Linked DNA regions of Homo sapiens. The protein of the gene in region 1 purifies or fractionates together with the protein of each later gene. This does not show direct contact. Each region holds a gene or a part of one and is shown in the gene's direction. Other genes may lie near its edges.

Region 1 (3,500 bases):
GGCAGTGTGTAGTGCAGTGTCCTGAGCCCATGTTTTTGAGCCTGAAAGACTTGCGTTCAGATCATGGTTCCTTCACTGGCTGCTGGGTGTCCTAGGTTAAGATCCTCTTTTATTTCAGTTTCTTCATCTGTAAGATGAAAATAATAATATCTAACTCATTGGAATCTTAAAAGAATTAAATGTGAAAACAAATGTTAAAATGCTTTCTGGAGTACCTGGCCCATAAAAAGCACGCCATAAATTATAGTAATTATTGCTTTGCGGTAATTAGAAAATAGTATGAGAGAAGGAGGTAGAAGAAAAATGGCAGAAGTTACTGAGCACTGTTAGGAAGCAAAGCCTTTATGGAAACGTAGGGCCTTAAGTTCTGCCGCTAGACACCATTTGTCACAGAGTCCACACTGCCTGTTACATCTTTCTCTGGACCTGCATACTGCTGGATCCAGTAGAGAACAGCTCAGGGCATCCGCACAGGGAAACTTGTGATTTGGAGATAACTCTGTTGGTTTGAGATTCTAGGGTGAATGGGGACAAAGAGAAAAAACCCAGGTTAGGCCAATTCGGCTGGTAGTGCACAAGGATCAAGGATGTCTTTTCCTGAAATCTTGCTGCCAGAGGTTCTAAGAAAATGTCTCAGCCCTCTCTTATTAGACACCAGCAATGCATTCTAGGGCTCACACCAAGTAAATGTTATGACCGTCTTTTGGATTAAGTAGATTCAGACATTTTAGGGTTATCCTAACCCCAAGAAGTACAGACTTCTATATTGTCCTTCATTTGTCTCTGAAGCTGATGGGAAATCATTCAATTAAAACGAGCACTGCAGAATACATAAAACCGCAATATGAGTTTAAGAAAATGAAAACGGCACATCAAAGGCATTGTGAAGCCTAGTTTTATGAAATGAAATTTTGTTTCATTTCCACTGATTTCCTAGGTGAAATTAGGTGACTGTCTGGGTAGCATAATGATGATAATGATGGGAAACCATACATACTCGAATGACATATGTAAAGCTTTAATAAAGAATAAGAGAGACTTGGGAGTGCATTAAATTGAGTAATAATTTATTATTTAGAGACCTCTACCCATTTACTTATTTTTTTTCTGGAAGAATTGGCTCTTATTCCAAGGTGTGCCATTTTTAGAAAGAAAAGGTTAACTGTGTGTGTGTTCTGCATGTTTGTTTTGTAGTTAGATGGTTGCTTATAGTTTGGTGTCTAGGAGAGCCATCCTACCTGTGAACCTTCGTCTGGGATGCTGTGAGAGAACAGGGTTGACAGGATTCTGCATGTCCTATAGGAATGCACTGCAATTATTTCCAATCACAATTAACCTGATTAGAATAATGGACAGGAAGTGTCCCTCTGTAGCTAATGCAGTTTGGCATCAGCTGACTGAAATCCTTTGATAATTTCTGCACAGATGGCTGGGCTGAATGCAGCACTTTTTAAATTATTATTTTCATGGTCTCTTGGTAGGCCAAAACCTCGACACCGACAACAGACCTCCCTATTAAGGTGGACGGCGCCAACATCAACATCACAGCTGCCATTTATGACGAGATCCAACAGGAGATGAAAAGGGCCAAGGTGTCTCAAGCCCTGTTTGCCAAAGTGGCTGCAAATAAAAGTCAGGTGAGTGGTTTTTAAAAAAGCAAAATCGAGGGCTGGAATTAGATCCTTCTCCTTCCTCCACCAATAAAAATACATCTGTTCCTATAATAATAATAACAGTAATAACCCCCAAGAAACCTGTCATGTTCTGCCTTTTACTCTAGTTTGCTTTTATTCCCATTGGAGTTCAAAATAGAGATGAAGCCAAAACTTGACCTTTTTTCTTTTAAAGATTAAAAAAAATTAGCCTCGAATGATTTCTCTCCTTATTCTAAACACTGCAATGTACCCTTTTGTTTCTCTCCCTTTATATATGTGTGTGTGTGTGTGTGTGTGTGTGTGTGTGTATGAACAAAACTTAGAATGTATATAACAGCACCTTTCTGAGACCAAGTTTTAGCCAAGTCTCATCACCTTTCCTGTTCCCACAAGGGGAATGTCCAACTCTGTTATAATAACCACTTTTCCCCAGCCCCAGAGACACCTTTTGATGTCAGGTGTTTCTTTTATGTACAGAATACAGTTGATTTTTTCAGGAGAAAACACACGTGGGGGGAGTGCAGAGTAAGTGCTAAAATCTTTTAACAGAAAAACACAGAAGCTTATCCAGTAAAATTTTTCAGAGTTCTGGGATTGTGGAGAATGTAATGCTCTGGGGAAAAGAGCAGACAGATGCTTAGGTTTTTTATTTCTGAAAGCAGCAACAGTTGATGGGATCTACTATCTGCTTCAATTCTTCATTTAAAGGGACAACTTCTGCCCAAACCTAGAATCCTAGGTTTGAGGTGCATGCTCACTTATGTATACCTAGGGCGAACACCTAATGCAGAGTGGAGGAAATAAAAGTTAGTTAAAGCATAATTTTGAGAGTCCTTTGATTCTGAGCTTGATTTCCTCTGTGTCCTTATATGACAAATGTTTTCATCCCTACATATGTAAATAATCAAATGGTTGATCATCTCCCTAACAAATCTTCTGTTGTGTGCTATAAAGAAAGGAAGTGACTGAGTATTGTATTTCTATTAAGCAAGAAGGTTTTCAATAAAAATTAAATTTTTAAAACTGAAAAACTTCAAACTGTAGTTAAATGTTATATTTAGATTAATTATAGAGTACAGGGTTAGCCTTCTTTACCTGCAGTTTTAACCTGATATAGGTTATTTTTAGATGTTGATAAAAGGAGGGGAGTAGAATATCAAGGAACTTGGAAAGGGATTGAAATGTTTGTTTCCCTTTTCAATTTCAGTGTAGTAAGTTTTCCAGATTACTCTGACTTTCTCTCTTCAATGAAATCAGTGAAATACAGTTTGCTAAGACATAATGTCCAACCATAGTATGAAATACATGAAAAGAAAATACCATAGAGCCTTCTTAAACTGTTAAATGCATAAAATCCCATGTACCACATGGCAAAATATAATGAGAGTTGGAGCTGTTAAACGAATAAAGCTGTTAAATGCATAATGCCACTTGGCAAAACTACTGTGCATTTAATGGTTTTCCACTGTGTAATAAAGGACATATGTGGTAAATGTGCAGTGAGTATAAAAGCTGCACAATTGATTTTGCAAACCTGCCCCTTAGTTGTGACTTGATGTAAATATCAAAGTTTCACACAGTCCTTCTTTTATAAGCAGCTTTCAAGAAAAACTGAAGACCACAGTCTGAGAACTTGATTCCAAAAGCCTGTAATCTTCCTGTTGATTTAGCAGTATGGCTTTTGGAAATAGTGATGCCTCCAGCCTCCTAAAATAATTCAGGTAGCTGATTGAAAGCTGCTTTTGCCAACTGGCAGAAGCTTAGCTCTCCAAATTTTTGATGTCTCCTGAAGAAATCAGTAGCCCTGATTTCGTAGAATTTGGAGAAGAACATAGTTCTGGGAAT
Region 2 (3,500 bases), on another chromosome or scaffold:
TACTTTAAAAAGTCAAGGTTTTTAAGCTTTTAAAAGTTTTACAAGTGCATAAGGTTTTGCTGTTTTTAATAGTCTTTTGATCTTTTTTTTGGAGATTTAGAGCGACGAGATTTGTCTCACAAGGAGAAACTCTACCTGAGAGAGCTAAATGTCATTACTGAAACTCAGTGCACTCTAGGTAAGAATAGCTTTTTAATGTGAATTTTTCAAGCTGAACATTTATGAGATAATACTAGATAAGTATCTTATTTCCTAAAATATTTTACAAAATTAATAAAATAAATTGAACTATTTAAATGCTACATTATTTACTTCATTTTTGATTATTGTTAAAATACACAGGAGAATGAAGCTTGAACACACATGTGGTTCCTGACTTATGATGGTTCAGCTTCATGATGGTGTGAAAGCAATGCATATTCAGTAGAAACCATACTTCAAGTGTCTATACAACCATTATTCTTTTCACTTGCAGTATAATATGTAACAAGTCACATGACATATTCAACACTTTATATTAAAATTTGTGTTAGCTGATTTTGCCCAGCTGTAGGCTAATGTAAGTTTTCTGAGCATGTTTAAGTTAGGCTAGGGTAAGCAAAGATGTTTGGTAGGCTAGATGTATTAAATGCTTTTACTTTTTAGGATAGTTTCAACTTAGGATGGGTTTATCATATGTAACCCCATTGCAAGTCAAGGATCAACCTCTATTCTATAACAGAGTATAATTGTCTAATTTTTCTCTTTTTTTTAACACAGAGTCTCTCTCTGTTGTCCAGGCTGGCATGCAGTGGCGCGATCTTAGCTCACTGCAACCTCCATCTCCCGGGTTCAAGGAATTCTCCCTCAGCCTACCGAGTAGCTGGTACTACAGGCGCATGTCATCACAGCCATCTAATTTTTGTATTTTTATTAGAGACGGGGTTTTACCATGTTGGCCAGGCTGGTCTCCAACTTCTGACCTTGTGATCCACCCACCTTGGTCTCCCAAAGTGCTGGGATTACAGGCATGAGCCACCATGCCCAGCCCTTGTCTAATAATTTTTACAGAGTTTTCAGAGTGTTTGTATTTTTTGTACAAAGCTTGTACAATATATTTTTTTAAGTTGCAGGTTCTTTGCTAAGTGCATGGTGTGTGCGTGTGGTCCCAGCTACTTGGGAGGCTGAGGGAGGAGGATCACTGGAACACAGGACTTTGGGGTTGTAGTGTGCTGTGATCATGTCTGTGAATAGCCACTGCACTCCAGCCTGGGCAAGATGGCGAGACCACATCTCTAAAATGCAAAAAGGCAAATTTTCTTCAATTTTTAGTTCTGTATAATTATGTCCGTGCTTTATTTGTAATCTTTTTTTCACAAACATTTTAATGCAACATGGCTACTTTTTATATAAATTCTTGGGAATGCATTTTAGCAATTGGTGAAATCTGATACTGTGAGTTTTGAAAATTGTCTCCATGGTGTGTGTGTGTGTGCTGATGTTTTTGGTGAAATTTTAATTGATTGTAATATTTCTTGTGTATGGAATTTGAAGACTGGGAACTATAATATGTTGAATTTTTTTTTATTCATCTAGTATTCTGTAGTACTTGTTAGTAGTTAGTGCATTTCATTATTTAACAGTTGTTTCCAACTAAAGGGATATATGTTCAAAGCACATAGAATCTTAAAAATAAACTTGTTTGGTTGAAAAATTGATATATTTGCCTTTTGCAAGATAATCTTTTGATTGCTCGAGTTTATATTGTGAATATTAAGTTTAATTATTTTCAAATGTACTAAGATATTTTGCTTTGGCTATTGGAAAACCATTACAACGTGGAGCGGTTTGAAGAATTAAATTTTGAAGAGTGCTTTTGTTCACTTATCCTTAAAAGAGCTTCTTTATTTTTTTATTTTTTGGTCTAAAATAGGCTTAACAGCATTGCGCAGTGATGAAGTGATTGATTTAATGATAAAAGAATATCCAGCCAAACATGCTGAGTATTCTGTTATTCTACAAGAAAAAGAACGTCAACGAATTACAGACCATTATAAAGAGTATTCCGTAAGTAATTGAGGTGACTGGCATTTTTTATTTGGGTTGGGGAAAATGACATTTTAGAAAGTTATATGTGACTTCCAACTGTATTTTTTTTTTCCAGCAAATGCAACAACAGAATACTCAGAAAGTTGAAGCCAGTAAAGTGCCTGAGTATATTAAGAAAGCTGCCAAAAAAGCAGCAGAATTTAATAGCAACTTAAACCGGGAACGCATGGAAGAAAGAAGAGCTTATTTTGACTTGCAGACACATGTAGGATAACTTAAATTTAGTACCCCCTGAACTTAGTTTATTACTTGTTATTGCAGAGTGCCCATCACCCCCTTTATCGTTATTTTTTGTACCACCTATGTGTGTGTGTTTTTTTTGTTTGTTTGTTTGTTTTGTTTTGTTTTTTGTGGCAGAGTCTGTGTAGCCCAGGATGGAGTGCAGTGGCATGATCTCGGCTCACTGCAACCTCCGCCTCCCGGGTTCAGGCGATGCTTCTGCCTCAGCCTCCCCATTAGCTGGGATTACAGGCGCCTGCCACCACACCCAGCTAATTTTTTGTATTTTTAGTAGAGATGGTGTTTTACCATGTTGGCCATGCTGACACCTGCGTGTTCTTTTTTTCCTCAGAAGTTGAGATGTTATTTTTAATGGTGTGCTTAATAATACTCAATTTACATTTTTTTGTGAGATGTCTTTTGCTTTACGGTTAATAATTCTAAATGAGACTAATAATAGCTACATATCATACTTGCTGTGCGTCCCAAGAGTTTTTAAGAGATTTGCATGTTAATTCTCATAGTAACCATGTGAGGTTGGAACTAGGATTACTTCCATTTCATAAAGAAATTGAGCTACAGAGAGGTCGTATAAGCTACCCAGATCACTCTGCTGTTAAGTAGTGAGCAAGAGATCCACTGCCATTCCTCAGGAGAATAGGCCTTTAAAACAATAATATATAGAACTGAAAGCACCAACTGTCCTCTTAGGTTATAGCTCCTGATATCTCCTAAAATTTTAGCTTTTCGAGGGGGAAGTGGGCGTGCAGTGGTGAGCACGTGGGGACTCTTCCTAAAGCCTTGATTCTTAGCATGGAATCAGTTTTGTGTTTCTCTTTATGTTAACGTAGGTTATCCAGGTACCTCAAGGGAAGTACAAAGTTTTGCCAACAGAGCGAACAAAGGTCAGTTCTTACCCAGTGGCTCTCATCCCCGGACAGTTCCAGGAATATTATAAGAGGTATTTAGTAGTTTTAGTTACAGTTGGTATCGGCTATTGGTAAGGGGTTTCAGAGCCTTTTGTACTTGCCTCCTAACAATTTTGGGGTCTATAGATATCACCGTAAGATATCGTATAGGATTTGTGTTGCTATTCTTCTCTGGTTCTGTGGTAAACAATACCCTGTAGTCAGAATTTGAATATATGCTGGTGAAGTCTAGATGCCTCTGTCTCTGCCCATTCTGTTTGGGTT

The links.
Region 2: the proteins of SATB2 (region 1) and PHF10 purify together in Homo sapiens (affinity purification with western blotting, with the first as the bait; one study listed by BioGRID). This does not show direct contact.

What each region holds. Positions count from the first base shown.
Region 1 is NC_000002.12:199,321,940-199,325,439, reverse strand, and holds part of SATB2 (DNA-binding protein SATB2), read left to right. Parts: intron 1-1,481; coding exon 1,482-1,637; intron 1,638-3,500. UniProt on the Homo sapiens protein: Binds to DNA, at nuclear matrix- or scaffold-associated regions. Thought to recognize the sugar-phosphate structure of double-stranded DNA.
Region 2 is NC_000006.12:169,714,501-169,718,000, reverse strand, and holds part of PHF10 (PHD finger protein 10), read left to right. Parts: intron 1-94; coding exon 95-178; intron 179-1,912; coding exon 1,913-2,046; intron 2,047-2,143; coding exon 2,144-2,293; intron 2,294-3,158; coding exon 3,159-3,268; intron 3,269-3,500. UniProt on the Homo sapiens protein: Involved in transcription activity regulation by chromatin remodeling. Belongs to the neural progenitors-specific chromatin remodeling complex (npBAF complex) and is required for the proliferation of neural progenitors.